Linked DNA regions of Homo sapiens. The protein of the gene in region 4 purifies or fractionates together with the protein of the main gene of each other region. This does not show direct contact. Each region holds a gene or a part of one and is shown on either strand. Other genes may lie near its edges. The genes, in order: ATP13A3, TUBB8, MTG1 and ISLR.

What was found.
Region 1: the proteins of ISLR (region 4) and ATP13A3 purify together in Homo sapiens (affinity purification with mass spectrometry; 3 studies listed by BioGRID and IntAct, with this or other methods). This does not show direct contact.
Region 2: the proteins of ISLR (region 4) and TUBB8 purify together in Homo sapiens (affinity purification with mass spectrometry; 3 studies listed by BioGRID and IntAct, with this or other methods). This does not show direct contact.
Region 3: the proteins of ISLR (region 4) and MTG1 purify together in Homo sapiens (affinity purification with mass spectrometry; 3 studies listed by BioGRID and IntAct, with this or other methods). This does not show direct contact.

What each region holds. Positions count from the first base shown.
Region 1 is NC_000003.12:194,441,127-194,449,369, forward strand, and holds part of ATP13A3 (polyamine-transporting ATPase 13A3), read right to left. Parts: intron 7,511-8,243; coding exon 7,331-7,510; intron 6,884-7,330; coding exon 6,726-6,883; intron 5,990-6,725; coding exon 5,801-5,989; intron 3,661-5,800; coding exon 3,599-3,660; intron 336-3,598; coding exon 185-335; intron 1-184. UniProt on the Homo sapiens protein: ATP-driven pump involved in endocytosis-dependent polyamine transport. Uses ATP as an energy source to transfer polyamine precursor putrescine from the endosomal compartment to the cytosol.
Region 2 is NC_000010.11:46,103-54,925, forward strand, and holds TUBB8 (tubulin beta-8 chain), read right to left. Parts: upstream 3,195-8,823; 5' UTR 3,137-3,194; coding exon 3,080-3,136; intron 2,811-3,079; coding exon 2,702-2,810; intron 2,624-2,701; coding exon 2,513-2,623; intron 2,357-2,512; exon of another isoform or gene 2,323-2,356; intron 2,181-2,322; coding exon of another isoform or gene 2,013-2,180; coding exon 955-2,012; 3' UTR 786-954; downstream 1-785. UniProt on the Homo sapiens protein: Tubulin is the major constituent of microtubules, a cylinder consisting of laterally associated linear protofilaments composed of alpha- and beta-tubulin heterodimers.
Region 3 is NC_000010.11:133,417,061-133,423,167, reverse strand, and holds the end of MTG1 (mitochondrial ribosome-associated GTPase 1), read right to left. Parts: intron 3,689-6,107; coding exon 3,576-3,688; intron 3,143-3,575; coding exon 3,003-3,142; 3' UTR 648-3,002; downstream 1-647. UniProt on the Homo sapiens protein: Plays a role in the regulation of the mitochondrial ribosome assembly and of translational activity. Displays mitochondrial GTPase activity.
Region 4 is NC_000015.10:74,168,473-74,177,108, reverse strand, and holds ISLR (immunoglobulin superfamily containing leucine-rich repeat protein precursor), read right to left. Parts: upstream 3,400-8,636; 5' UTR 3,090-3,399; intron 2,563-3,089; exon of another isoform or gene 2,456-2,562; intron 2,259-2,455; 5' UTR 2,251-2,258; coding exon 964-2,250; 3' UTR 238-963; downstream 1-237.

The DNA.
Region 1 (8,243 bases), on a different chromosome or scaffold from region 4:
TACTTTTGCATGATTTTTAAAATATTTCTCCAGTTGATGTAGCTTTAGAAATTACATAGCTCCTTTTAGGGTACAAGATAGACTGTCATTAAAACAAAAAGCAGAAATAATCCTTGTATGAGGTAATTTAATTTTTAACTATTATTTTCCTAAAGTTATTTGTATTTTAAAATATTTGACTTACCCATCCAATAGCCTCAAACATTTTCAGATCAAGTGGATCACCAGAGAGCACTCCTTCAATTTTTGTAAGTGAATGACAAGTAGCCATACAAGCAACAAACTGGGATTTTACCAACATCTCATTGCACACATTTTCTTCTGGTGAAAGAAATCTAAGCAGAAGACACACTGAATTAGTTTCATAAATTCTAAGATTCAAGATAATATTCTAACAGGGCTTTTCTGGTTTTGTAATTAAAAAAAAAATCTTTTAAATCCCAATCTGAGCTCCTAAGAAAGAGAAACTGTCAAGTGTCAGAAATACAGGGAAAAGAAAACCAGAGGGGTGTGAACTTGAGCTGATGCTATGGCTGCTGGGGGGATGAAGGGAGGGGGCCATCTCAGTAAACTAAGAACTTGGGATTTAATACCCACAAAAGGACAGGAAACAAAGTCTGGCCCCATGCAAAGTGGGTAGCTGGTACTGAAAGGATCCCTCTGACTCAGGAAAGCCAGTACTCTTGAAGAGCTACACGCCCTTGGGAAAAGGGCAGATGAGAAAAAATTCACCCACAGACCTAAAGGCATTAATTATGAATAAGCTTGTCTTTTTCCTCACCCAAAGTCCAAGAAAATAGCTAATATCTGCATAATATTTACTATGCACCAGGCATTATTCTAAGAACTTTAAATTTATTGGCCCATTATCCTCACACCATAGAAAAGGTGTTTTATTACCCCCATTATAGATGAGAAAACTGAAGCAGGGTGGTTAAGTGACTTGTCCCAGGTTACACCGTCCATAAGTAGCAGAGCAAGGATTGAAACACAGGAGGTCAGTTAAAGCCTGTATGACACCGTTGATTACCACTGGGGCTCTTAGCCAAGCAAAGTCAGAACTTCTCCAGAGGGGAGCTCAAAGAAAATTCTGTTAAGAATGAGTCCATAATTTAAAGATGCGCTAGCAAACAATTCACCAAGAGTGTCAACAGACATAACAAAGACAGAATTAGAATCCTATAAATTTGGCCAGGGGCAGTGGCTGATGCCTGTCATCCCGGCATTTTGGGAGGCTGAGGCAGGAGGATCATTTGAGGCCAGGAGTTCAAAACCAGCCTGGGAAATATAGCGAGACACCCATACCAATTCCTATGTTTAAAATAAAAAAATAAAGAATCCCGTAAATTTAAGATAACAGAATGGCAAATCTGAAAGAATGCAAAAAGGGCATTTTAAAATTAGACATACAAAGAGTAAGACACTGTAGATGCGAGAGTAGGGGTGGGAGCAGACTTGGAAAGAACCAAGTAAACCATGTGTTGTCCAACACATGGTTAGGATTCCCAGAAGGAGAGAAAACAAAACACAAGGAAAAGGCCATAATGGAAGTAAAAAAGGCCTGAAAATTTTCCAGAATTTATGAAAAACATGAAAGCATGAAATCAAGAAGCATCATGAATCCTGTACACACAAATAAAAAGATCACAGTGAATCTGCAGAAATTAAGGGTGAAGAAATATTCTTCAAGCAACCAGAGAAAAAAAAGATTACTAAAAAGACTAAGATTTATCAGTACCAATTAACAAAAGGTATTAAGAGAAATGAAATAACAGCTTCATAGTATTGAGAGAACACAAATGTCAAACCTAGAAATCTGTATAGTTACACTACCACCCAAGTGACAGTGGGCTGCTCTGCCTATGAAGGAACCATTCTTTATTCCTTTACTTTCTTAAATTTGCTTTCACTTAAAAAAAAAAAAAAGAGTGACAGTGAAACAAAGCAAATGAATGTAGTTACAGAAGATGGCAATTTACACAAGATGCAATGGTTAAGGCATTAGTACACCTAGGTAAATCTAAGCATGCAGACTGTATAAGACCAAAATAATAATCAGAAAATATTATGCAACAAATACATATAGGAAGGGAGGAGAATAACCAAAAGTATCTTACAGTCCATAGGTTTGTTTTGGGGGGCAGGGGAGTGGTTAAAAGGCAGTATTAACATCCATGAACTTTAAGTATAAATATTGATAATGTAAGAACAAGCAGTATAAGATTGGGATGCATAAAGTGAGAAAATGAGAGAAAAAATGAGAATGTGAAAATGTGTATGTAAATTGGGGGAGCAATGGTAGAAATAATTTCTAATATATCTGAATAAATGTGCACATCATGGCACAGAAAGACTGAAAAGTAAACAAGTGGCAAAACACACACTAGGCAAACATCAGGCAAAAGAAAGCTGGTATAGAGCTATATAATTATAAGACAAAACAGAATTTAAGGCAACATGCATTACTAGAGATAAGAAAGGTCACAACGTGACATACTATTTTCCAAGACACAACAACTCTTGAAATTACATTGGCCAAACAATACTGTCTCTCAAGCTATATACACCAAAATTTAGCAGACTTTTGACAGGGGGAGGGGGGAAGACACAAACAAAACTACAGGAGTAAAACTTCTGAGCTTCAAAAAGCAACAGAAACAAAAGTAAAGAGATGAGCCAGAGACTAATAGGATAATTTTCAATACACAATATTGAAAAAGATTCCTATCCAGAAAATAAAAAAGACCTCTAACAAATAAGATAGACTTCCCAACAGAAAAATGAGGATATAAACACACAATACACAGAAGAATGCTAAATGACCCTCCCTCCAAAATGTGAAAAGATGCTCAATTTTATAAGAAATGAGAAGAATGTAAAAACCACAATGTAATACTCATATCCATCCATCTGGCAAAAATTACAAGTCTGACAATATTAAGTTTGGCAAGAATGTGGAGTAAAAAGATCTTTACCCACTGAGAGAGAAAGCATAAAGCTGAAGCCGTGCCCATGCTACGGCCCAGCCTTTCCATTTACAGGGATCTAGCTTACTGAAACTCAGCCACATGCCTACAAGGACTTATGTGTAAGAACTTTAATTCCAGCACTATTTGCAACAGTGCAGAGAAAAAAGAAGAAAAAACAGAATTGTCCCTTAGTAGAAGAACAGACAAGGTTTAATCATTCAATGGAATAAGACAGAGCAGTTAAAATTAATAAACTAGATCTGCACATATCAACATGGATAAATCTTGAAAACAAAGTTTGGAGAGGGGAAAAAAGCAGCAAAACATATGTACAGTATATCATTCATGGATACTTATTTATAGATTTATACTTAGAAAAAATATAAAATATGCAAAAATAATTTCAGAATGGCAGTAGGAATTGGGGAAGGGATACAGTGGGACTTTGGCAACTTCTATAATATTTTAATATTCTAAAGGAAGCGATCTGAAGCAAATATGGCAACATGTCCACGGTTTAATCCTGGTATAGGTACACAGTTGTCTATTACTTCCTTTATGTTTGAATGTTGCACATGTTAAAATATTAAAAATAAACTAATAAACTATCAAGTCTAACTAATATTTACCGTGCATTTTCCACTCGTTGAATCCCCCAAAGATCTAAACCATCTTCAGTTAGAGTTCCAGTCTAAAAAACAAAAAAGCACACATGCACAAAGTATGGATGATGCCTCAAAAAAAAACCCAAAAATAAAAATAAAAAGCAACCACACAGCATTAGAAACTATGCTACATATAACATAATGGAGTTCTACAGAGTTAAAAAAAGAAACAGGCAAGATCCCTGACAGAGAATGGCTTCCAGGACATATGGTTAAAGTGGGAGAGGGGGTGCAAACAATGATCACAAATCTTCTGCGTAAGGGCAGAGAGGGGTATATATTTACGTGCTTATACTATCAAAAAAAAAATCAATGGAAGGATGCACCAGTTAACCTATCTTATCAATCAATAAAGGATGCCTATAAAGCAAAAAAGGAAGGATTACTGTATAAGGAGGGCCAAGAGGAACAGGTTAAAGTACATCAGGAGGAAGCAACTGGCCAAATCCACAAGGTAAATGACCTGGTTTCTTCAACAAAATAACTGGAGATAAGGGGTAAGTAAAGGCAATTGTTACATGTTAATTGTAAGCAATGTAATCCCTATTTGGATTCTGACTGAAAAATCAACTAGTAAAAATTAGAGATATGAGGAAATCTCAACTGGATATTAGAAAAACTAAAGAATTGCTAATTCTGTTAAATGTGATAGTGATATTTTAAATATCCTCTAGACACATACTAAGGTAGTTATGAGTGAAATAATGTCTGATGCTGTCCCCTTCAAAATGAGCAGATAGATAAAATAAGACTGACAATGTGTTGATAACTGATAAAGCTGGGTAATGAGTAAATGAGTGTTTATTATACACACATCTTTTCTCCACTTTTGTCTTAAAACTTTTAGGAAAGTTTCCAAAAAAGACAAGCATAAGTGAAATTTTTTGAACTGATAAATATGAAATAATTGTAGCAGTATGTGACATATTTTTTTCTAACAGAACATGTTTCCCATTTTTTTCTGTAATAATGAAATGCACAAAAATCAAATTTGTATCACATCAGTTACCCAGAAAAGTTTGATAGAAGGTTTTCTGGTCAAAGTTTAATTCTCAGAAAACTTTAAAGAAAATTCCAGCTCAGGAAAGGAGAAACCTTTCTAAGAGGCAAGATATACTTCACACAGGTACATAATTTGTCATTTTCACATAAAATCAGTGACCTTCATAATTCTTAAACATATTCAATAAAATCATACAGCAAACACTAAACATACACACTTACAAGCAATAAAATCATAATAAATATATATGTATGGAGCCTATTGTGTTAAATAAGAATTACTGTCTAAAAAATTAAAGGTCACGTAATCTTTACTGCTACTACTATTAATACTACTAGGCCTAATTCTGGAGTTAACTGAAGCTTTGAGCAAATAAGCAATATCCAAAGTATTAAAAATTGAGAAAATAAGAAATATAGCATGTCCTCAAATACGATTGTTTTGTCCGTCTTTTTTTATAACACGATGGGTGCCAGTGGTGGGGAGAGCTGAGGCCCAGCCGCGACCACTATCTACATGGAGTTTGCATGTTCTCTCCCTGTCTGCATGGGTTTCACTCCAGGTACTTCAGTTTCCTCCCACATCAAAGCTACGCAAGTTAAGTGAACCAGCACATTTAAATGGTCCCAGTCTGCGCGAGTGTGAGTACACCCTGCGATACGATGGCATCCTGTCTAGGGCTGGTTCCTGCCTCGTTCCGCCAGTTGCTGAGATACGCTCCCACTACCCAGGAGCCTGAAATAAAACAACTGGGTAAATAATTACCTTACTTGTTTTTATTTCTTTCTTAAATGAATGTATAGCTCATATTTATTTCAATGATTAATATCAGAAGTGTTTTAGATCTTTATTTAGAAGTTTGGTGATTTTTTGTGACCAAAATATGGCATAGGAACTTAAATCTCATTTGTATCAATTAGCCTATGGTAAAACTGGTTTCATTTCATTTAAAGTTGCAGTTTTCAAGAACCTATCAGTAATGTTAAGTGAGAACTTATGGTATAGAAAAATGATGCATATACCAAATAAGTGGAGGAAAAGGAAAATTAGAGGAACATGACAGAATGTGTCCAAATTTGTTGACAAAGAAAATAAAAAACATTGATCTAAATATTTAAACGCTACGAAGTAACCTTTGAAAGTAACTATGAAACTGAACCCACCTTGTCAAAGCAAACAAGATTGAGCTGTCCACAAATATTTATTCTTTGAGGACTGATACAGAAAATACCGATTTTTTTCAGTCTTCTCTGAGCATACACAATACCAGCAGTCATTGCAGCAGGAAGTGCAGGGGGCACAGTAATTGTGATAATATCAAGAGACTCGATAATTATGACCCCAACTTGTACCTACAATTAACACAAAAATAAATGTCAAATCCCCAGTATTATTTACGGATTTAATATGGGTATTTCTTTAGTGAAAATCTGTAAGCCATTTTCAATTGTATATTTCAATTTTATGTATGTGTGTGTATATACATATCTATTAACCATATATAATTTTTTTCTTCAGATATTTCTGCAAAATAAAAAAGCTCAATGGATTATAGAATGACAGCTACTTTCAAAAGAAACTTATCTCATTTTCAAGGCGCTACATACTTCACACATGACACACTTCAAAGCCGGTCAACAATCATTATCAGATATTGACTCAGCGTGCACACACCTTACTGTACCACTCTCCACTTCTGACAAGCGGCGCCTTCAATTAACTAACCACAAATCATTTTAACACTGTATATTACATCTCAGAGGTAAAAAAGAGAAAATAAAGCTTTTGGTGATTATGTGGGGGGGTTTTTTTTCCTGTTTTTTTTTTTTAAAGTCACAAGACCAAGTAAAAGACCATCTAAACCAGAGGCACCCAAAAGAAGTATCCTTTACAATGGAAATGTTCTATAGCTGGGCTTTCTAATATCATAGCTACTAGTCTCATGACTTTGTTAGCATTAAATTAATTAAAATTAAATTAGCTTAAAATTTTAGTTCCTCATTCTCAGTAGCCACATTTCAAATCCTCAATAGCTGCATATGATAAATAATTGAGGTTCAAACCCTATTAAGAGTCCCACATACATACCTCATTTAAAATGCTATTAATAATAGTGTAGATAAACCCAATGCCAGCAACTGCCACAAGACATAGTAGAAACAAGTAGGCATCTCTGTAGAGTTTAAAATCAGTTGGTTTGGGATACAATATGGAACGAACAAGCTGTCCTTTGGAAGTACTAAATCCTTTCAAAAAAAGAAGACAATTATTGATATTTTTATAAGAAAATGAGAATTATCTCCCAAAACAGAATCTCTCTTTTTTTTTTTTTGAGACAGAGTCTCGCTCTGTCACCCAGGCTGGAGTACAGTGGTGTGATCTCGACTCACTGCAAGCTCCGCCTCCTGGGTTCACGCCATTCTCCTGCCTCAGCCTCCCGAGTAGCTGGGACTGCAGGCGCCCGCCACCAGGCCCGGCTAATTTTTTTGTAATTTTGGTAGAGACGGGGTTTCACCATGTTAGCCAGGATGGTCTCAATCTCCTGACCTCATGATCCGCCCACCTCGGCTTCCCAAAGTGCTGGGATTACAGGCGTTAGCCACAGCACCCAGCCCAGAATCTCTTTTTAAACATTTAGTAGGTATCAAATATGCTGAAACATGCAAAAAGAGATTAATTAAGATGTTTCCTACCTGTTCTAACAACTATGGCTTTGACGAGTTCTCCAGTGTAGAAACGAGTCTGAATAACAGTTGTCCCACAAAACAAAGTATGTCGTTTATGTGTTTCTGGATTATATAATTCATCTCCTATTCCTTTCACATCCACTGAAGGATTTGGCAAATTAGTCTTTGTCACTGGAACACTTTCTCCTTTAAAAAACAACAACAACAACAAAAACAGTTTACAAATTATTAAACGAAAGCACAGGAATCAGTATCGAACACCAAAAAATATTAAATTGTTAAATATTTTAAATGCTACCATACTGTTTACAATAATCACTGAGAGTTGTATATGTGGACAACATGGCTTAATTTTTTGTCTACCAATTTCCTCACATAGAAGTATCAAATATTATCTCCCACAATAATTCCAGAAAGTGATTTGTGGCTCAAAGGTAATATTTGTTTATATTTAGAAACAGTTGCATTGTTCAGTTTCAAATAATTTCAAAAAAGATTAAGTAGTTGCTATAGTCCCTGCACCTCTAAGAACTAATGGTAACAGTGGAAAGCACTGTACAGAAGAGATGTGAGGGCCTACCCCGATCCACCCCTACACACACACACACACACACACACACACACACACACACACACACACAGAACAGAAAAGACAGCTGGGCAAAAAAGAGATGTGAAAATGAGTAATGTGGTGGTTCTCTCAAACAACCACAAACAGCCAAATTCTTTTTAAAATTAATTCTCTGCAGCATTCACATTTCTTGCTTCAAAGAAGGCATGTGTGTCAGATATGTATTTGTTTGTGTGTTTTAAGATACGAGATATGTGTTTGTGTGTTTTAAGACACGACTCTTAACAGTTTCAAAATGTATTACATATAAATCATTTTCTAGCCAGATCAACTAGGACAATTAAAAAA
Region 2 (8,823 bases), on a different chromosome or scaffold from region 4:
GGAGAGAGCAGACAGTACACATTAGCCACCTTTCCAGAGAGCATCAGCCCTCCAGACTGGGGCAGGTCAGACCTCCACTCAGGCATTTTTCTCACTGGTTGCCAGTTGGGGGAAGCAGTATTTGTGAGCACCTGCCTGTCTCCCCAGCTCCTGTTCAGAAACCCCATCTGTGCCTTTGGAGGGACTGCCCTGCGCACACAGGCCCAGCAACCACCATCTACGGCCCCCAGGACCTAATCCCCTTCTACTTGGGATTCAGTGCATGTTAGCAGACACTGGGCTTGATTCCTGCCTAGTCCCTGCCAGACATCCCATGCCCACCTCATTAAGAGAATGAGGCCACACAAACACACCCAGGCCATCGTGATGATGGAGTGCCTGGGGTCCCACTTGCCCACCCTTCATTGCTGGTTCAGAGCCAGCTCTGACCACATTCCTACCCTGAGATGGGACTCTGGGGACATTGTCCACCAGGGTCACTGACCCCTTTTAACGTTCCAGAAACATGGCCAGCTGGTCCCCTAGAAGTTTGGTATATGGGATAAGCCAAGGCTTGCCTTCAGCAACAGGTTTTCCACCACGTCACTGCCCAAGGCCCAGGGCATCCCCAAGTTCATGTGAAGCCTGCCTGCCATGTCCACAGCCCATACCGACCCCTCCTGGAGCCACTGGAATGCTTGTTCCTGGGCATGTGATGAACCCAGACAGCTTCCGCCTTGCAGGACAACTATGCGCATCTGGCAGCAGTAGCCAGAGGGCCCATAGAAAGAAGATGGAGGCAAAACCAGATGCTGTGAGAATACTTTATTAGTCAAAACCGCATACTATAAAAATGCTTTAAAACGCAGCAGGAGATGTGAAGACACAAATTAACAAGCGTATAGTGACACATGGCTGTCAGAACACAGTAAAGAATCCACACTGCTTCCCCCCTTTACCTAGAAAAGGAGAGTTCTAGGCCACCTCCTCCTCGGCATACTCCTCATCCTCCTCCTCCTCGGCCGTGGCATCCTGATATTGCTGATATTCAGACACCAGGTCGTTCATGTTGCTCTCGGCCTCGGTGAATTCCATCTCATCCATGCCCTCGCCCGTGTACCAGTGGAGGAAGGCCTTGCGCCTGAACATTGCTGTAAACTGCTCTGAGACACGCTTGAAGAGTTCCTGGATGGCCGTATTATTCCCAATGAAGGTGGCTGACATTTTTAGCCCCCGGGGTGGGATGTCACAGACGGCTGTTTTTACGTTGTTGGGGAGCCAGTCAGCAAAGTAACTGCTGTTCTTATCTTGAATGTTGAACATTTGTTCATCCACCTCCCTCATGGGCATGCGACCCCTGAAAATGGCAGCCGCCGTTAGGTAGCGGCCGTGACGGGGGTCACAGGCAGCCATCATGTTCTTAGCATCAAACATCTGCTGGGTAAGCTCAGCCACAGTCAAGGCCCGGTACTGCTGGCTGCCCCGGCTGGTCAGTGGGGCAAAGCCGGGCATGAAGAAATGCAGCCGGGGAAACGGGACCATGTTCACGGCCAGCTTCCGCAGGTCAGCATTCAGCTGGCCCGGGAAGCGCAGGCACGTGGTGACCCCACTCATGGTAGCAGACACCAGGTGGTTCAGGTCACCATAGGTGGGTGTGGGCAGTTTTAGGGTCTTGGAACATATGTCATACAGAGCTTCGTTATCTATGCAAAAGGTCTCATCTGCGTTTTCTATGAGCTGGTGGACTGAGAGGGTGGCGTTGTAGGGCTCCACCACGGTGTCCGACACCTTGGGCGAGGGCAGGATGCTGAATGTGTTTATGATCCTGTCTGGGTACTCCTCCCGGATCTTACTGAGCAGAAGGGTACCCATCCCAGACCCAGTCCCCCCACCCAGGGAGTGGGTCAGCTGGAAACCCTGCAGGCAGTCACAGCTCTCAGCCTCCTTTCTGACAACGTCCATCACTGACTCCATCAGCTCCGCGCCTTCGGTGTAGTGTCCCTTGGCCCAGTTGTTTCCGGCCCCACACTGACCTGTAAGACAGCACAGCCGGTCACTCGACGGCCAGGTATACGGTCATCAGTGGTCACCACCATAATGCAGAAAGAGCCAAGCGTCACACGTGAGGTGAGAGCACCGTTCGCCCTGCAGGTGGAGCAGATGAAACCCCCTCCCCCAGAGTTACAGGACAGCAGCTTCCCCTGTTAGGAATTAAGACAGGAGTCAAACCTGAGACGGGTTCACAGACCTCGCTGCAGGTGGCTCCTGCCCATTCTCAGGAAAGGCAGTAGCCACGGCCCCAGCTCAGGTTCTTGCAGGGAGTTTACATCAGTAACTCCTCACCTTGAGGAGACACCAGGGCCTTCCTCCCGAAGCCCATTTAGGAGAGGCAGATTGAGCGACTCGACTCGGAGGATAGGAGGGTGTTCAGGGGCCCTAGCTCCACAGTTCCCAGAGGATGACCTTAGCACACTCCTGGATTTTGAGCTGCCCTGGCTAAGGAGCCGCACCCCAGTCCTCGCCCGCAGCTCACCGAAGATGAAGTTGTCTGGCCTGAAGACCTGCCCGAAGGGCCCCGAGCGCACAGAGTCCATGGTGCCCGGCTCCAGATCCACGAGCACAGCGCGGGGCACGTACCTGCCACCTGCGTGGGGCGGGAGGGCATGAGCGAGGGGAGGGCCGCGTTCCCAGGAGGGCGGTGGGGGAAGGACGGGGGTCTCACCGCTGGCCTCGTTGTAGTACACGTTGATGCGCTCCAGCTGCAGGTGGCTGTCCCCGTGGTAGGTGCCAGCGGAGTCGATGGCATGTTCATCAGAGATCACCTCCCAGAACTGCAAGAGACGGGAGGAGACAGACAGGCCGGGGCTGAGTCAGGGAGGCGCCCCAGCCGCTCTCCCACCCCCACCCTCATCCGCACCCCCATCCCTAGGCCGCCCTGTCCCTGGGGTCCACCCCGGCCGCCTCGCCAGCCACCCGGTTCCACCGTCCCCGGCAGGGAGCCCAGGGGCCGCAATGCATGGGCACCGCCCCCGCCACTGCCAACACCTTCCCCGGCCACCCGGCAGGCCCGGGCTAGGCCCTCAGAGCCCCGGCTGCCAACCTTGGCGCCGATCTGATTCCCGCACTGCCCGATCTGCGTGAGCACGATCTCCCTCATGGCCAAGGCGGGATTAGGACGGCAGGAGAAACGTGAGAAGGAGGAGCAGACGCGCAGCGACCCAGCCCGCCCTCCGCCAACGTTTAAATAGCCCCGCGCCCACCTCCCTCCGCCTCGGATTCGGCTCCCAGAATAAGCAACAGCTTTACTTCCACACAGGTGCACCCACCTGTGGATCCCCTGGCGCTGAACATCTGTTGGAAAGCTCAGGTGTCCTTGCGTGGTCCTTTCCACGTTGGGGAAAGCTGCTCGCTGGAGAACTTCCTCCCGCGTCTTTAGTAAGACTAAATCCCTAGCTGAGCTGAAACTGAATTTTCCTCCCATGTGGGAGGGGAAGACTCTTGTTTCCATATGCACGGAGTGCCTTTGCACCTGTCCTAGATTGATGACATATTTTTGTAATTGATGAGTCTTTTCATCTATTAGGAGATCTGTGGTTAGGAAAGGCCTTCCACATGTGAACTCAACAGGACTCAATTATACGTTTTACTTTGGAGCAGTTCTAACCCACAATAAGCTATGGGTGTTAGAGACAGTCAGGCCTCTGATTTAGCTGGAGTCTTCTTTAGAGTAGGGTTAGCCCTTTCACCTTTCCAGAGGACTGTGGTCTCCAGCAGAGTGAAGGTCATATTGGATTCTTAAAGCTGAGGACAGGTTTTGGGATACGCCTGCTGTGAAAGATGGGCCATTGTCACTTTGCAGGCTTTTGGATTACCCAAACTGAGGAGTTATTTCTTCTGGTAAACATTTTTCAGATGGGGTGGGGAATGCCTCGATCTAACCAGTGAAGGTGTCAGTAAGCATTAGCAAATATTTGAATCTCCTGCAGAAAGGCTTCCGGGTAAATTAGAGTGGCCAGTTCTCACCTGGATAGGTTCCTCAATTTTGGACAGGTTTAACTGGAGAAGGAGAAAATTGCTGGCCATTTGAGTCATGTCAGGCACAAAGCTCACAGGGCTGAGTCACCTGTTTTAGTGTCTTGAAAAGATTTACCCCTATAAACAAATGAGACATTAACAGAAACAAAGAATCCCTTCTAGGGTGAAAAGAATCATGAAAGTGCTGAGTTATACTCCTGTGATTGGTACTTGGCATTAGTAATTTATTACCATCATTCAGCCCGAGGGGCCCTGGACTGAAATGCAATCCCTGGCCCATTTTCGTTCTTCTTCAGGGTATTCTGGCCCAGTTCTATGTATGCTGACCAGCACGCCCACAAGCTTCATTGGCCCTTTCAGTGCAGGGGCCTTGGCTGTGGCATCTACAAGGGCATTTCCTTTTACATGGTCAGTCTCTCTTTTGATGTCCTCTGCAATTAATTATACTCACTTTTTGGCAGCAAAGCAGCACTCTAACAAGCTCAAAATCTGAACGATGTTGTATGGAAAAGCCCTTGGGGGTCAGGAGTCCCCACCCATTCCAAATTGCAGCATAAGCATGAAGCACTAAAAAATCATACTTGGAATCAGTGTAAATGTTAACTTTTAAATTCTTTCCCAACTGCAGGGGCCTAGTTAGTTCAATTAACTCAGCTTTTTGAGCTGCTGAGGTCGAAGCCAGCAAGGCTTGTGCCTTGATTGATTCTCTTGTGCTAATAATAGCATATTTAGCCCTCCTGTTTTCCTGATGCATAAAACAACTTGCATCTGTTAACCACTCTTCCTTGGGATGGTCCAGGGAATCATCTCTCTTATGTCTGGCCTGCTAGAATCAATTTGTTTCATAACCTGTGACATGCTTTGGCTGTGTCCCCAGTCAAATCTTATCTTGAATTGTAGCTCCCCTAATTCCCATATATTGTGGGAGGGACCCAGTGGGAGGTAATTGAATCAGGGGATGGGTCTTTCCCATGCTGTTCTCATGACAGTGAATAAGCCTCATGAGATCTGATGGTTTATTTATTTATTTATTTTTGAGACAGAGTCTTGCTCTGTTGCTCAGGCTGGAGTGCAACCTCTGACTGCTGGGTTCAAGCGATTCCTGTCTCAGCCTCCCGAGTGGCTGGGATTACAGGCGCCCACCACCATGCCTGTCTAATTTTTCTACTTTTAGTATAGACGAGGTTTCACCATGTCGGCCAGGCTGGCCTCAATCTCCTCACCTCAGGTCATCCACTGCCTTGGACTCCCAAAGTGCTGGGATTACAGCTGATGATTTTACAAAGGGGAGTTTCCCTACACAAGCTCTTTTGCCTGCTGCCATGTAGAAGATGTAACTTTGTTCCTCACCTGCCTTCTGCCATGAGTGTGAGGCCTCTCCGACCATGTGCAACTGTGAGTCAATTAAACCTCTTTTCTTTATAAATTACCCAGCCTCAGATATGTCTTTATTAGCAGCATAAGAACAGACTAATACAGCCTGTATGCCAGAAAGACTAGAAGCACCTGTGGACTCTGACAGCTAAGTAGCTGGGTTTATGGCTTGGCAGGCTTTAAGGGTTGTGTCTGGAGGGTCGGTCTAGCAATAAGTCCTGACACTTTCATAAATATTCTCCTATTATCCACTGCTGCCCTTTACCTTCTAGGACCACCTTCCCTTGGTGTGGGGTCAAAAACCTGTAGGTGCTGTTCTAATGTTAGTTTATTATCTTTGCCAACTAGAAAAGTGGTAGCAGCAATAGCTCTAAGACATCAAGGCTAAAAGTCAGAGGATCGCTAAGGAAAGTAAAAGCTAAACTGTTTGGGGCCTCTTTCCTGGGGCTGCCTCCAGGCTACTGCAAAACGGAGGCGGTGAGCAGAAAGGCAACAATATGCAGAGCACTCAGGTGAGGGACAAAGAGCACAAGGTGGACAGTCCAAAAAGAGAAAGTGGCAAACATCTTGTTTAGCCAAATCCATTCTTCTCAATGTTCCCCAGGGCCTCTAACCCTGTGGGCTTGGCCTCTAATCTGAGTATGACACCCCCAGGTCTCTACTTTGGGCTGAGTCTCTCACCCTAATATTATACCCTAGGGCCTCTCACTTAAGTAATAGTGGGTAATCATTCTTGCCAACCTGAATGGCTTCATGACCCTAAAACACAGCCCACTTGCCAGCTAAATGATTCTATGTGGATTGTTTTCCTTGGAGTGGGGGTCTTGTCTTGGTGTCCCTTCATGGTGTTGCTGAAAGATGTTGCTAGAAAAGAGGGTCCTGACACAGACCACAAAGTAGGATTCTTAGATCTTGTGCAGTAAAAAATTTGAGGTGAGTCAGAGAGCACAGTGAAAGAAGCAAGTTTATTAGAAATGACTCCATTACAGAGTTGGACATCCTCAGAAAACAAGAGCAGGAATGCATTGTCTTTTGTTAGTGTCTCTAACTATAAAGAGAAAGAGTTATAATTAAACTTGGAAGGTGCAGATGTACTCATTAAAGTCGGGGCTATTCGTTTTAACAATGACCATTAACCCGTTGACCTAAGCTAGCTCGTTAATATTATCTTTAACAAAAAATGCTGCACTCCTAGGACATTTATACATTTTTCAGGCTTGGTGGAAGATGTCTTGTATGGCCATAAATATTCTGCAATTGTAATCTGTGGCCAGTAAAAAAATGTGGCTATTTTCAGACCATAGGTATTAACCTTCTAGATGCCTTGTGAGTACCTAGCTACTCATATTAAGATAGAGAATTCTAGTCATGTGTATTAAACTAGAAGCTTGGTAACCACGAGTTCCTCTAACACAACAAGTATACTCCTCAAGGAGAAAATGTATTTCTCAGGAATTTTGTGCATTTTGTTTGATGGCATTTGGTATGTTTACCAAAATGGCAGAAAAGAGTGAAATTAGTACTCAAAGATTTCTCAGGATTGGACATAAAGTAAACAAAATGATTATAGTTAATATGCAAGTTGACACAGTTGATATGCAAAAGAAATTTTGTTTGAAACATGAGATTTTTATTTTTATTTATTATTATTATTTTGAGACAGAGTCTTGGTCTGTTGCCCAGGCTGGAGTGCAGTGCACCATCTTGCCTTACTGAAACGTCTGCCTCCCAGGTTCAAGTGATTCTCCTGCCTCAGCCTCCCAAGTAGCTGGGATTACAGGCATGAATCACCACACCCAGCTAATTTTTGTATCTTTAGTAGAAATGGGGTTTCACTCTGTTGGCCGGGCTGGTCTCAAACCCCTGACAACAAGTGATCTGCCCACCTTGGCCTCCCAAATTGCTGGGATTACAGGCATGAGCCACTGCTCCCAGCCACAATGAGGCTTTTAAATAATTCTGATTTCCTGCTGTTGAGCAGGGAGCTGAGCAAATTCAACAGATCATGAGCCTAAAGTAGAAGACTGAGGACAAACTCTAGAACACATGTGATTAAATTAATTACAATGGAAACCAAAACAAATTTAGTAAGGCCATACCTCTTAGTTTCAAGATGTTTCCCCTCATTTTGAAATGTGGTGTTATTCAGTGGAAAAGAAAAACAGTGTTTATCTCCAGAGTAAAGAACAGGGTTCCCTGCAGGGACTGACTGACTGAGAGCTATGGCTCAGGATTAAAAATTCTTCTTTTTTCCACTTATAAACTAAAAATTAATTTCTAAGCCCCTATTGACTAAATGGACACCTCTTCTTGGATAAGGACATTCCAAAGTTAACCTGAAAAGCTACTTCAAGCCATGGGTCACACCTGCCTCATTAGACTCTCCTCCTTTTGGTTTTAATTGTAATTTTTAATTAATTTTTGTGGGTACATAGTTGGTGTATATATTTATGGGGGTACATGACATACTTTGATACAGGCATGCAATCAGTAATACACAATAAAAAACAGGGTATCCATCCCCTCAAGCATTTATAGCTTGTTTTATAAACAATCCAATTATACTATTTTAGTTTTTATAAAATGTATAAATTATTTTTTTACCATAATCACCCTGTTCTGCTACCAAATACTGTCTTATTCATTCTTTCTAACAATTTTTTGTACCCATTTCACATCCCCACTAACCCCGTTCCCCCACTGCCCTTCCCAGCCTCTGGTAACCAACCTTATACTCTCTATCTCTATGACATCAATTGTTTTGAATTTTAGCGCCCACAAACGAGTGAGAACATGTGACATTTGTCTTTCTGTGCCTGACTTATTTCACTTAACATAAAAACTTTCAGTTCCATTTCTGTTACTGCAAATGACAGACTCTCATTCTTTCTTATAGCTGAATAGTACTCCATTGTGTATATGTACCACATTTTCTCTATCCAGTCATCTGTTGATGGACATTTAGGTTTCTTCCAAATCTTGGCTATTAGCAACATTTGTTTTTGACTGACTTCTGGATAAAAGCCACCTTAACTGAGGTGAAATGATATCTCATTTTGGGTTTGATTTGCATTTCTATGATGATCAGTAATGTGGAGCACCTTTTTATTTGCCTATTTGCCACTTGTATGTCTTATTTTCATAAATGTCCAATTAAATTTTTGTCCACTCTTTTATTATATTTTTTTCTATAGAATGTTTTGAACTCAATATATTGTAGTGTATTAGTCTGTTTCTGCACTGCTATAAAAAAACTGAGACTGGGTTATTTATCTATTTATGTATTGAGATGAAGTCTTGCTCTGTCACCCAGGCTGGAGTGCATTGGTATGATCTCGGTTCACTGCAACCTCCACCTCCTGGGTTCAAGCAATTCTCTGCCTCAGCCTCTTGAGTAGCTGGGATTACAGGCACCTGACATGATGCCCAGCTAAG
Region 3 (6,107 bases), on a different chromosome or scaffold from region 4:
TCCGGCCTGGGCTCCCCCTTCCTCCCTTGCCCACGGTCTTGGAGCCCCACTGGGTGCAGGAGCTGCTGGCTGTCCCTGTGGACCCGCCATCCACCGTCCTGCCCACGCCGCCTCAGCCTGCCACCTCCCACCTAGAGGAGACCATGGGCCCTGCCCCACCCACTCCAGGATGTTAGGGTCCCCTCAGCCAAAAAGGCAGCTGCCTGTGGCTCCTGTACCAACCGCCCAGCCACGCTCCATCGCCGCCCAAAGGGAGGTGCCAAGGCCAGGAACCCAAGCCACCCCGGCTCCCCTCGCCTGCCCAGGGGCCGTGGTGACTCACGGGCAGGGAGGCGACATCAGGCTGGTTCTGCCACTGAGCCCCTGAGGAATCTGACCCTCCCCAAAAGAAGCAGTGAAATGGACCAAAGGACTTAAGAATTTGGGGGGAAGTGAGGGAAAAACGTTAGGTGCTAACCACCTGCCCAGAAGAGTGGATCTCACAGCCCAGGAACATTCCCAAGCAGGAAAACCGTCCGTCCGAGGAACGTCCATCCTGGCTCTCTGCGGCTGGTGGGAAAACACACCCTGCCCTGAGGGGCTGTCCAGGCCTTCTCCCCCACACCCTCAGGCCGAGATCCGTGAGAGACCCACTTTGCTCCAACAACTTGAAACAAGTCACTTTACCCTCCTTAGGACCCATTTTGGGGGGGAAAAACCAACACATTCCAGAGCTTTCCAAGTCCTTTGAACTTCAGGTTCACATTCAGGGATCACACAGTTCTGCCTGTTCTCAGGGCACAGCAACTGCCAATCCCGCTGAAGAGGCCTCCCTGGGCACAGCACAGGCTGCACGGTGCACGCATTTCCCTGAAGGCAGCCCCTTCTTCGGAAGCAGCTGTTCCAGGCCTCGGAACAGGGCCTGGGTATCCGCGTGGTGGGCTGGCAGCTGACGGCCTGCTCAGTGGAGCCAGGAGCTAACTCAGACCCCAAAGCAAGCAGGGGGCCAGTGGCGGGGCCCAGCGCCCAGCAGGACACCCATGCAAGAGGCTGAGCCCCCCAACATCCAAGGACAGGAGAGACATGGAGTGGCGCTGGACAGTCACGACAAGGACTTGCCTCCAGCACTGGACACACCTGTGTTAAGACCAGCCCTCTGCTTCCCAGTCCCGCCAGCCTGGGGCATCCTCCATGGGCTCAGCACTGAGAGGTCTTGGGTCTGCCACGTTCTCTAGCTCTCCAGTCACCCACTCATCCAGGGTAGGAGGGGTTCTCCCTGCCCCCCGCCGTGGCCTTGGGATCTCACCCTCTCCATGTCCTGGGGACAGCCTCGCCCTCAGCCGGACTGCATCCCTCCTGGGCCTGAGCCTCGGGACTCAGTGGACACCAAAGTCAAGACCAGCACCCACCACGGGCCCTGCCAGCCTCTGCCTTCCCCAGCTGGCCTGGGTTCTGGCCTGGGTGAGGATCTGGAAGCTGTTGGCAGGACTCAACCAAGCACTGCTCTCTAGCTCCAGGGCACTAAGCCACAGGAGGCAGCGCCCTGCAGCCTCCCGTCCACACTGCCAGCAATGCCCCTGGCCCAGTGAGCCCAGACGCTCCTCCACCCCTTCCAGACCAAGCTCAACGCCTCCAAGACCAGCAGGCCAAGGCCAAGCCCTGCCCCAGATCCTCATAGGCAGAGAAGCCCTTCTGACATTTCCCCCAGGAGGCAGGGGGTGGTCTGAGTCTCCTCACAGCAGAGAGACCCACCGGAGCCCCCTCAACTTTGCAGATGCCCACCTGGAAAATGGGCTGAGCTGCACCAGACCCTCACACACCACAGCACTGCAAGCTGATGGAATGTTCCAGTTATGATGGACACTTCGTGATCTGCAATGACTGTTGATTCAGCACATTAGCATCTGACACAGCCAACCTGAATACTTCCTGCCCCAGGCGGTCAGGGTTATGGCACGATGCAGGTGGCACTCAGGGGCTAACTTCAGGCTGATGAGTGTGTGGGGTATGGGGCAGCAGAGGCAGCCAGCCAGCAAAGAGGGGCCACTGAGCACCAGGGCCCTGGTGGAGGCTGCTGTGGGACGGTCAGGCCACCACCGCAAAGAGGCAGCCGGAGCTTCTGCACAGGATGTCCCTGGCCCCAGGTCCTGCAGCACCTTAGTCCATACTACCAGCCCCACCCACCTTCCTTCCTCTTCCCTCTTCTAGGACACAGGCTGTGGACCCCTTCAGGTGCACTATAATGGGGCTGGAGGGGCCCCCACATCTCTCAGCCCCACTAATGCAGAATCCCACTACCCGTGAGCTAGAAGGTGCTCAGAGGCCAGGGGTCTCTACTGCCCATGCCGGGCGGCCTTCCAGTCATTGCACAGCAAAGCCATGTGCAGGGCGTCCCCCTCAACCCTGCCCTGAACATGCCCCAGGGCACTGAGGGGCGAAGCCAGTGCTTGGGCTCTGCTGCTGGGAGTCTCTGGTCTGTGTCTGTGTGTGCCTGTAAGTGTGAAATAAACCTCTCTGATGGCAGCAAGCCTCTCACTTGTTGTAGGACTGCAAGACACTGGACCGAAAGCCTCCAACACAAACCCTAGCTGCCAACCTGCTCATTTCTTAGGTTTCACTGGTGAGAGCAGCTTTAACACACAGGCCCAAGGCACTACGGTGCACCTCACAGGCCAGTAAGAAACAGGCCCTTTAACTGGAGATTTTAAAGGTTACAGGTTATAGCTTTAACTCCTTCTGAGACAGCATCCATTTCTCAAGAGGCCTGAGCAGGAAGCTCCGGGAGAACCAAGCATGCGGAGCTGCTCAGGGACGTCCACTGGGAAGCCTGGTGTCCACTCCCACCTGCTTGGGCCCTGCAACTGGGGTCCCTGGAGCTGGCCAGGCTGTGGGGCGCCAGAGAGCACAGCACCCTAGTGACCAGCATGGAGCTTCTGGACCGGGTGAGCTGTCTTGAGCCTCAACCACCCAGGTCAGGAGGTCTGGGAGGCCACATGCCTCCGGCCCTCCCTACCCGGACAAGTTCAGGGCAAAGTCTCAGCCGGGGGGTGGCCCCGCAGGACGTCGAGGTCCAGCATCACGGAACCCAGCAGCCCACGGCGGAAAGTCTGCAGGAAGTCACGGGCTGCCGCAGGATAGTTAGGCTGAATAATGTTCACGTTACCTGGGGGACGGGAGGGTTCAGTGAGGAAGGAGCCTTCACAGCAGGACAGGCCCAGCCCTTACCCACCTGAGGGACCAGCCCTAAGAGGCTCCATGATGGCATCAGGGAAGCCCAGGGAACGGGATCACACTCAGAAAGAAAACAGCTTGAGCTACGCTGCCCGGAGCCTCCAAGGCCAGGCATGTGAGGCCTGCAGGTGTCCACCTAGCACTGCCCAATACGCGGCAGGGCTGGTCTCACCCTCGGAAGCCTGGACTACAAGCCCTTCCTCTCCAGAACTTTCTGTAGCTCCCCTGCCCTGAAACCCATTCCCAGAAGACCCGGCGCATGCTCCTTGACACGTTCCTCTCCTCCCTGCCTCCTCCAGGGATGGCCGGGGTCCCCCAGGGTGATGGGGTGAGGCTCCGGTGCCCGCATCAGCGACCTCACTCACCCGTGCCCGTGAGCACCTTCACCTTCTGCGTCTTCCCCAGCTTCACAGCCACACTCTTCAGCACGCGCTCTACGTTGTCACAGGCACTGCCCAGGCCGTAGTGCTGCACGTACCTGCACATAGGCTGCAGGTCAGCACCAGGGGGCCCAGCACTGACACCGCGCGGCCAGCCAGGCCGGGCCCTTCCTCCTGAATGCCACAAAGGCCACGGCCAGGCACCTCCTGTGGGTGACAGTGACTGCGGCGCTGTGGATGACCAAGATGAGACTGCAGGTGACCGGTGCTGGGCCCCGGGGGAGAGCCACTATCTAAGAATCATCCCTGAGCTTCGTCCTGTGTGGCCACGGCCAGCAGCATGGGGGGCGGCTCCCACCACCGGAGCCCTTGCCGCAGCGGGAGGAGTAACAGCTGTTCACACACACAGGCTTCATCCACTCTATCCGGGGTAGGACAGGCAGGCCTCTGTGCAGGCCCAGGTCCTGGAAACTAAAAGAGGAGCACAGCAGACCATCTGCAAACATACTCTGTTTGCTGCTAAGGATGGCACTCGGTAACTTCCAGGCAGCCAGTACACCTGCATCCTCTCCACCCGGCTGGGTGTTTGAGCGGTGTTTTCCTAGCACAGGGACCAGCATGGGCTGACTAGGCACCCACCGCTGCTAAGCGTCACCCAGTGATTGTAACGGGCACTCTGACTCCTCACAGTGCAGGCTCTGGGCAGAGAGGCCTGGAGGGAAAGGCCAGCACAGAGCAGCCACTCACAGGGACAAACACCACCCTAAGCCTTGGGAGCCCGACTAACCCAGACCCAACACTCTCCCAACCTTCCTGACAGCCAGGGGTGAGGGGAACCTGTCTCGTGGCTCCCACGAGGGCAGGCTCAACCTTGAGGAGGCTGGTGCCCTCGGACCTGGTCACAGCATGAGCCGGTAACAGAGGACTCACCCCAAGGCCCAGCAAAGCAAGACATGAGCTCAGAGCCCATAGGAGCATCAGAACCCTGAGTAACACAGGTTCTAAATCTAACTTCTCGGAGGCACCAAGCATGAGCTCTGAATCAGCAGCCTCAAGGGTGCCCTGGTGCTCCAAAAAAGCTGTCCCAGGAGAGAGGAGCAAGCCTGGAGGAGGCGCCCCGGACCACCCCCGAGACCTGCCAATGGGAAGAACTCCTGAAAGGACCGGACTGTTTCCAATAATCTAACTGTCCCACAACAAAGCTCAAGAATTTTTACAGGAATGTAGATATCCATCACCTAACAAGGTGAAACTCAAAATACATGGCATCCAGCCAGGCATGGTGGCTCACGCCTGTAATCCCAGAACTTTGGGAGGCCAAGGTGGACGGATCACTTGAGGTCAGGAGTTCGACACCAGCCTGTTCACCAATATGGTGAAACCCTGTCTCTACTAAAAATACAAAAATTAGCCAGGTGTGGTGGCACATGCTTGTAATCCCAGCTACTTGGGAGGCTAAGGCGGGAGAATCGCTTGAACCCAGGAGGTGGAGGCTGCAGTGGGCTGAGATTGTGCCACTGCACTGTAGCCTGGCTGGGCGACAGAGTGAGATGCCATCTCAAAAAAAAGAAAAAAAGAAAGTCATTGGTAGCTTGATGGGGATGGCATTGAATCTATAAATTACCTTGGGCAGTATGGCCATTTTCACAATATTGATTCTTCCTACCAATGAGCATGGAATGTTCTTCCATTTGTTTGTATTCTCTTTTATTTCATTGAGCAGTGGTTTGTAGTTCTCCTTGAAGAGGTCCTTCACGTCCCTTGTAAGTTGGATTCCTAGGTATTTTATTCTCTTTGAAGCAATTGTGAATGGGAGTTCACTCATGATTTGGCTGTTTGTCTGTTATTGGTGTATAAGAATGCTGGTGATTTTTGTACATTGATTTTGTATCCTGAGACTTTGCTGAAGTTGCTTATCAGCTTAAGGAGATTTTGGGCTGAGACAATGGGGTTTTCTAGATATACAATCATGTCATCTGCAAACAGGGACAATTTGATTTCCTCTTTTCCTAATTGAATACCCTTTATTTCCTTCTCCTGCCTAACTGCCCTGGCCAGAACTTCCAACACTATGTTGAATAGGAGTGGTGAGAGAGGGCATCCCTGTCTTGTGCCAGTTTTCAAAGGGAATGCTTCCAGTTTTTGCCCATTCAGTATGATATTGGCTGTGGGTTTGTCATAGATAGCTCTTATTATTTTGAGATACGTCCCATCAATACCTAATTTATTGAGAGTTTTTAGCATGAAGGTTGTTGAATTTTGTCAAAGGCCTTTTCTGCATCTATTGAGATAATCATGTGGTTTTTGTCTTTGGTTCTGTTTATATGCTGGATTACATTTATTGATTTGCGTATATTGAACCAGCCTTGCATCCCAGGGATGAAGCCCACTTGATCATGGTGGATAAGCTTTTTGATGTGCTGCTGGCCATCAGAGAAATGCAAATCAAAACCACAATGAGATACCATCTCACACCAGTTAGAATGGCAATCATTAAAAAGTCAGGAAACAACAGGT
Region 4 (8,636 bases):
CCCAGCTGTCCTGTGGGATGGTTTGGAGGAAGGGAACATCTGCAGCTCAGCTCACCGCAAGGCCCAGCCCCTGACACAGCATCGGGCCAGCACTCCTGTGCCTCCACAGTCTGTTGGAGTCTCAGAGGCCCCTGCCACTGTGGGCAGGCAGGCTGGCTGCCCTGACTCTTCAGCTCCTGATCCTATCTCCCAGCAGAGGCTCCTAGATCCAGACAAAATTCCAGGCAGACACGGAGGGGCATCAGAAATGCTGTTTATTTCTCTGCTGCTCCCAAGCTGGCTGGCCTTTGCAGAGGAGCAGACAACAGATGCATAGTTGGGGAGAAAGGGAGGACAGGTTCCAGGATAGAGGTTGCAGGCTGAGGGAGGAAGGGTAAGAGGAAGGAAGGCCATCCTGGATCCCCACATTTCAGTCTCAGATGAGGACAAAGGGACTCCCAAGCCCCCAAATCATCAGAAAACAGCAAGGAGCAGGAGGAGCTTGAGCAGGCCCCAGGGAGCCTCAGAGCCATACCAGCCACTGTCTACTTCCCATCCTCCTCTCCCATTCCCTGTCTGCTTCAGACCACCTCCCAGCTAAGCCCCAGCTCCATTCCCCCAATCCTGGCCCTTGCCAGCTTGACAGTCACAGTGCCTGGAATTCCACCACTGAGGCTTCTCCCAGTTGGATTAGGACGTCGCCCCGTTAGCATGCTGCCCCTGAGAGGAGAGCACAGGCAATGCTGTTAGCAGCAATGAGCACCGCAGACAGTGAGTTAGGGGATCAAATTCTATCCTAGTCACTAGTTTGGAGCAGGTCTAGAAGTTGGGGATAGCAGGTGCTCTAGAAGAGATTAGAAGGAGAGGTAGGAAAATGTGAAGTCACCCATGCAGGCCTCAGGAGTTGCCAACCCCAGACCCCTGCAGCACTTAAAGGGGCATTGGTAGGGGCAAGGGGAGGAGTTAGGGAAGCCCTGGGTGGGGCTAGAAGGAGGTGAGGAAGAAGAAGAGGAGGAGGCTTTGGCCCAGCAGGAGCAGGCCTGGGGGCAGCTGCCCAGGGACCCCTTCTGCGACTGCAGCCTCAGGGTTCCCAGCACGGCTGAGGTAGATGATGACCACATTGTCCTCCGGCCCTGATGGCTGCACCTCGTTGTCAACCGTATAGCAGCCCTTTCCCTCAACCGCTTTGCCATGGAACCTGCGCCCCAGTGTGTCCTCACCACCCTCACCGGGCGTGGCCAGTGCCACGTCCACTGAGCTCTCAGCACTGCCCAGCTCATTGGTGGCCAGGCAGCTGTAGGTGCCTTCCTCCAGCTTGCCAAAGTCGGGGATAAGCAGGCTGCCATTGGCAAAGGCCTGGAAGCGCGGCTGGGAGCTGGCCACAGGGGTGCCAGGCAGGGCACGCCCATCAGTGCCCACGTTGGGGCTGGTGATCTCCACAATGCCACTGGGTATCTGGATGTGCCAGTGAAGCTGAGGGGCCGGCTGCCCGTCCACATCACAGTGCAGTGCCAGCACAAAACCAGGCCGCAGCTCGGCACCATCCTGGCTGGGTTGGTAGCTGAGCTGCACTGAGGGCGCCGAGCATGGCAGTGGCGGCAGGCGGCTCAGCGGCGTACCCTTGAGCACATGGGGTGAGGTGCAGGCGATGTTGTCCTGCTCCGGGATGGACACGGCCGTGGTCAGGGCCCATGTCTTGAGCCACACGATGCCGCAGGTGCAGTCGAAGGGGTTCTCGTTGATCTGCAGGTGGGACAGCGCGGTGAGCGGGGTGAAGGTGCCCTCGGCCAATGTGTGCAAGCGGTTGTGGTTGAGTTGCAGCGAGCGCAGAGCACGGAGGCTGCGGAAGGCGTCGCGGGGGATGAAGGTCAGCTCGTTGCTGTCCATCTTGAGCAATTGGAGGGCACTGAGGTTGTGCAGGTCGCTCCAGGCAAAGTCAGAGATGAGATTGTGGCTGAGGTCCAGGCTCTTGAGATGGCTCAGAGAGGCCAGGGCTCCGGCGGCCACCGTGCGGATCTCATTGTGTGCCAGCCACAGCGACTGCAGCAGGGGCACCTCCCTGAAGGCACCCTCCGGCAAGCCTGGCAGCCGGTTGGCTGACAGGCTCAGTGTAGTCACATTGGCCGGGAAGCCAGGCGGCACGGATTCTAGGTCGCGGTAGGCACAGTCGGCGATCTGGAAGCCATACTTTTCCCCACAGTCGCAGGGCTCAGGGCAGGCCTGAGCCAGGCCCAGGAGAAGCGCCCACCAGAGCAGATGCAGCTCCTGCATGGTGCCTCCTGCAGAGAAAGGCATGTCACCCAGGGGATCCCGAGAACCTGCCAAAGGGACTCATTCCTCCCACAAGCCCAGCCAGAGCTCTTTCCCATCAGGAGGCCCTGTCCCACATAACCCAGCTAAATCCCAACACCACCTAGCCCACCGCCCCCATCCTACGGAAGGAGAAACTGAGGCCAAGAGAAGGGCGGAGACTTGCCCGAGGTCACGCAGCCAGGCAGGATGAAGACGGGATGGAAGAGGACCCCAGCTCCTCCTCCGAGTGGAGAGTTCTCCCTGCCTCGGCCTGTTCCTAGCTGACTTTATGACTTGAAATCTGTTTTCCAGCCACCCCCCTCCCCCAGCACTTTGCAGAACCTCCCCCTGCCCTCCCACATCCTGGCCGCAGTCCCTCCCACCGGAGCCCCCCATAGGTATGCTTTGCCTTGGCCCAGACGAGGCCCCTTGTGCAGTGCACACCACCCCCATCCACTCCACCCGCCCTCTCCCGCTCCTCCGGCCATGACCGCAGCAGACACCAGGCCTTTTCTGTGGAATCACACCCGTGGCCTGTTCTGTTCAAACTTAGCCAGGCAGCTGCCTAAATAAACCCCCGCCAGGACCTCTCAGCTGACTTGGGTGAGGCCAGAGGCTCAGCCCAAACGCAGCTGGGATTTCTGGGGCCTCAGTTGTGGGTTGTGGAAGAAGCAGATGCCCCCTGGACGGCTCCAAGCTAGGGATTGTCCCACGCACCTCAGACCAGCAGGGATGGACCAAGAGGGAACCAGCCCCTATGTCCAACAGGCCTCCCGCTCCCGCCGCTGGCCCTGGAGCCCTCCTCCCCACTGGCTTACCTTCAAGCTACTCTTAGTCAAGCGGAGCCTCTTCTAAGGTGGAACCAAAAAGCAACAGAGGACCTTAGCCCTGAGAGTCTGCAGGGCCACGGGCGCCCAAGGGAGGACTTGGATGCTGGGGCGAGGGGCAGCCTGGTCCCACCCCACCTTCGATGTGCAGGCCTGTGCCCTCCCTGCCCCAGACAGGGTGCCTGGAACCATCCACTGAGAGGAGGCGGCAGGGAGGAGCCCGGGGCAGCCCGCGCACTCCCTCCTTCCAGCAAAACAACTGCTTCTCTGCAGCAACAAGGACCTGTGTTTCATAAGTGACACCAGAAACTTGAGGGGGGAAGAGATGCCAAATTTTTTTGGGTTGTGTTTTTTCTCTCTCTCTCACTCACTTTTAGCAGCTTCAACTTCCTTAAAGACACAGCACTGTCTGGAAAGGACCCAAGAAATGATGGGGCCAGGAGGATTTTAGCGGGGGAAGGGCGAGAAATTGAATCTCATGGAAGGTGGGAGATTTCCACTTCAAACAAGAAAAAACGGGAAGCTTTTGTCCAAGCCAGGGTTGTATGTGTGTTGGTGTGTATACGTGTGTGTGTGTGTACAAGTTTGTGGGTGTGAGGGTGCGTATTTCTGGATTTGTATGTGTGTTTGCATGGATGTGGGTATGAAACCATGTACATGAGTTTGTGTGTGAGTGTGTGTGTGTGTCTGTCTTGGTGTGGGTTTGTGTGTGGAAGTGAGTGTGCATCCATGTGTGTGTGTTTCAGTGAAAAGCCAAGAAGGCCAAAGTGTACAAAGCAGATACCAACCCTTCGGTGAAAGCCAAGATGTTAGGCATTTTTTTTTTTTTTAAGAAAACATATCCTGCTGGCTCTGAGACTGAGCTGCGCTAAATGCATGTTGTTGTCCAGGGAGCTCCCAAGACTCCAGGCCCCGCCCCTCACTGCGCTCCCCACTGGCTGGGGAGGAAACAGGGAGGCCTGGCTCAGAAAACTCAGGGCGGGAGCCTGTTGACCTTCAGTGCTCCTGGCTGGGATTCTGAGCCACCCAGGCCCACTGCCCACTGGGCACCCAGAGGGGAGGCCAAGGGGCCGCACTCCCGGAGAGTTCTCTCTGTGTCCCCCACAGGGCCCAAAATCCCACTGTTGGTGCTGGACATCTACGCGGTCAGCATCGGCCTCTCTGAGCTCCACTGTTCCAACACCAACTGTGTGGAAGGGGCAGACGCCTCCAGGGTGAGGATATGTGACCCCTTTTCCAAACGGGAAGGCCCAGGGGAGGGGAATGGGGAAACAAAAGAGGCCCAAAACGAGGGAGCTGGAAGAGAAACCGAAAGATGAAGGAGCCCAGAAAAGAACTTTGTAGACTGAAGAATTTTGCTCTCCACAGACAAGCCTACCGTATCCCCTCAGTAGCCCTCCCCAAGCTTCCTTGGCCTTCCATCTGATAACTGGTTGAATTCTGCTCATGACTCAACTTACCCTCTCAGCAGGGCCAAGGGCAGACAGGGCTCATCTTTGGCTGAAAGCATCCCCAGGAAGCCTGCCCCAGCTCATCACACCCCATTCCCTGTCACCAAGCAAGGCCACAGAAGTCCCCAGCATGCTGCCTGCAAAACACCCGAGTCTGATGCTGAGGATATTATTATGGTCCAATGGAGAGCACCCTCTCTTTCCCCTGCAGAGGAAGCCCTCTCTTGCATCATCCTGACTGTGCTGGAGAATTTCTAGGAAAGTCCTGAATTTGGTGGGCCAACCAGAGGCTGCAAGAAACACATCCAGGGTTCAGTAAACCAGAGGGGAGACTCAGTGACCTCAGTGTCAGTCAGGGAGGGCTTCCTGGTGGAGGGGGCTTCACTATGTTCTGCACAGCCCATACACACACCCTCACCTGCACAAAGTCTGTGCCACCAGCTTTACCTCCAGGGTGCTCTGAGGAGCTCATAGTTCCCACCCCACCTCCCTCCTTGCAAGCACATCAGGGTCAGAGTACAAGCACCTCCTCAGCCCTCAGTTCCCAGTGACTGTTCTCTCAGACATTCCTGACTTTTCTTCATAGCTCCTCCTATAAGCTGTGATTATTTATTCATGCGTGCTTAATGTGCGACCCCTTACTAGAGAGGAAGCCCACTGAGGGCAGAGGCCTTAACTTCCCAGGTGCTATTGATCTCCAGCACAGGGAAGACACTCTGTAAGCGCCCCCTTCATGGCATGATGGACAAGTTGGGTGGTCATCAGAAGGAAGCATTTTAGAGCTCACCCACTTCATCTCCTCATCAACTTACAGATAGGGCCTTTGGGCCCAGGCTAGGGAAGGGGCATGCCCAAGACATTTTAGAGAATATTTCATACAGTGTAGGAGACCCATGCTCTGTTGGGTGGGTGAGTATGTCAGCAGCCTTCTGGGGGCAGGGAGTCTGTCCCCTCATTCCCTACCTAAGACCTTAATGACAGCCAAACACTAAGCTCAGACTCCCACCTCAAAACAGATGTGGGGGGCTGAGGGCGGGAAAAGTGGGAGGGACCAGCCCACCTGGGCAGAAATGAGACTGTGCGTGCTGGTCACTGATGTATCTTCCTGGTCTGCTCAGGTCCTGCCACTGCCTGCAAGGTGTGGCCATACCCGCTTCCACCAGGAAGGACAATAAGGCCGCCAGGATCTCAGCCAAGGACTATTGACTCTCCAAGGTGTCTCACAGTGGGACAGGTGGGCCTGCTCCTCAGCAGAGCCCAGGAGCAGTTGTGCAGGCCTCTGAGGATGGGGCGTATGACCTCCTGGGTTGCCCCTCTGCTCTTCTCTTGCTGTCAGAGCTCAAGTTCTTTCTGTAAAGCCCACCTCACAGGAGATCATGCCAGCAGGCAGGGAGACAAGTCAGAAGTCGGGCTCCCTGATCTTTTCAGGCTGGGAGCTTCCTGTGGGCTGTCTGGGCTGCCATCTCCCCTCTCCTGGCCTCCTCTAAATTGGGCTCAGGCCTGAGATGGGGACCCTTGGTGAGTATGTGCGGCCCTGACTGTCCCCAGAACTAGGAGGCCAAGCTTGGGAGCCCCTCCTGTGAGTCCTGGCCCTGTCTCCTGTGGGTCCCTGGCAGCTTGTAGGGTGACCAGCCAACAGTCCTGGTTCACCTGGAACTGATGGGTTTTCTGGGACATGGGACTTTCCATGCTAAAATCGAGACAGTCTCAGCAAACCAGTACAGTTGGTCACCCTAGCAGGGGAGGGGGGCTCACTCCCTCCCACAGTTTTTCTTTCCCCCTGCTCCCCTTCCTGCCTGCAGAGGTCCAGCCCTCTCTCCTCCCATTCCGCTGCCTCTCGCTCTGCTCCTGCTCCTGCTGCCCCTAGCCAGGGCGCCAGCCGCACCCCAGCTGTGGCTGCTCAACCAGGACTCCCCCACCCCAGAAGGCCTCACTCCCACTGACCAGGGGCACCACGTCAGCTTTTCCTGGAAGGCAAAAAAAAAGATCCTGATGAGAAGATGGAGCGAGAGGGACAAGCCCAGCAGAGACAGAAAACTGGAGAGAAACAGAGAAATGAGAGAGACACCAGGAAAGAGAGGGAAAAACAGAGAATCACAGCCTCCTTTCTGGAGGTAGAGAAAGGAAGCAAGGGAGAAAGACCCAGAAAGAGAGATGGAGGAAGAAGGTCTGAACCCGGAAACAGGCTCTGAGAGGAGAGAGGCAGTCGGGGGCTGCTGTGGTCAGCTGTGGTTGTGGGCTGTAGCCATCCCACCAAGAGGGGCAGAGTCTATCTTGGTCCCGACACTGTATTCCCCCCAGCAGCCTGCTGGAATAGCTGGGAGGAAACTCGGGGCACTCCTGGTGGGACTTGGTTAAGCCTGTGGGTGTCCTGGGAGAGAGAGGCTGTTGAGAAGATAGGGTTATGGAAGGAGCTTTGGACAGCTGGTGGGACTGCGTGCGTGCATGTGTGTGTGTGTGTGTGTGCGCGCGCACACACACACAACATGCACATGCATGGGGGGACATAGAGTGATCTGCCTAGGTCACCAAATTATGAGGCTTCCTTTTTCTAGGCCTTAGTGCCTCTGTCATACGTGAGAGTTGGTCTAAAGTCCTTTGGCCCCTATATTCTGCCTGTTTAGAATTCTCAAAAATGTCTACACTAACACAAGGGGCCCGTGTGCATGCGTGTGTTCATGCACAATTTCTGTGTGCATGCATGTGAAAGGTGAGCCTGTGACTATTCTCCATGTGTGTGTGTTGTTCATGCACAAGTGTGGGGATGTGAGGTGGAGTGAGCAGGAGCTCGTGGCATGTGCACCCAGGGCTGTGGATGGGGGAGAGGCACTGCAGGCCCTATCTTCTCTTCTGGCGTCACCCTAGCCCAGAGGTTGCAGCTGACCTTACCTGGGGTGGCCTCACTCCCATTTCCTCCCCATTCTCCTCCACCCCTTCCCACCACTTGGGCATGAGGGCTTCTCCCCTCTTCTCAGGATCTCTGACCTAGGAACCCAGGTGAGCCTTGGTGGGCAACCTGGCCACTTTCCCTGGCCTCACCCCCCTTTGCTCTGGCCCTGCTCACTGTGTGCAGCCCCACGTGTGCCCTGCTCCCACCTTGGGGCTGCTGCTCCTACTATTTCCTCTAACTGGACAAAGTCTGTCCACACCTGCAGGGCTCCCTTCCTCTTGTCTTTTGAGGTTTGTTCAAATGCCAGCTCCCCAGAAAGGCCTTCCCAGGCCACTCTATATAAACAGTCTTTGTCCCTTGCTGTCTCCTCACCTTGCCTTACTTGTCCTTCTTCCCTCCCCTCCCCTGACATCTCTGTTAGTGTGTTTCCTGTCTATCTCCGCAATCTGAATGTGAGCTCCACACAGGTGGGTACTTCGTTCTGTCCACTGCTATCCCCCTAGTGCCCAGCAAAGGGCCTGCCACTTAGTAGGTGCTTAACAAATAGTTGCTGAACAAAGGAATGAATGAACAATAACCTTGACCTTCCAGCTGGAGCCTTTGCCCCCCTCTCTCCTCCCTCCTCCGTCTGCCCAGGGCCTCCTAAGCCCTCCCTGCTGACTGTCACTGCCCTTCCACTCAGGGCCATCTCCAGCCACTTTTCTGGTCCCCTCTCCTGGCACCATTCCCACTGCTCTCTCCTGACCTTCATGTTCATCCTCAGGGACTATTTTCAGCAGTAGCACCAATTGAAGCATACTTCATAGGAATTATTTTTGTTTTTCCCCAAGCCAGTCCCAGTTTCCAGGAATGCAGAACTTGGCCGCACCCCCAGGATACATCACAGACCTCGAGTTTTCAGCCCCAGCCCTTCCCAAAGGGTAGGGGTGGGACTGGGGAGTGTTATGAATGACAGTGAGTGTTCAGTTTAAAGTTCTAGATTGGAACCAGTGCTATAGGGTCAGGATCACGACCCTCTGTTAGCTGTGGGGCACTAGGAATGGGCCAAGGGCCATTTGTTAGGGGTCAGCATGAAGGGTCTGGATTAGACGCGGGTGCAGGTTGAGTGGGTGGGGCAGGGTTAGTTTAACCCTGAGGATGAAGCAGGATCTGGGGTCTGGAATGGGGGAGTCACAATAATCCCTCTGCTCCAGGGGA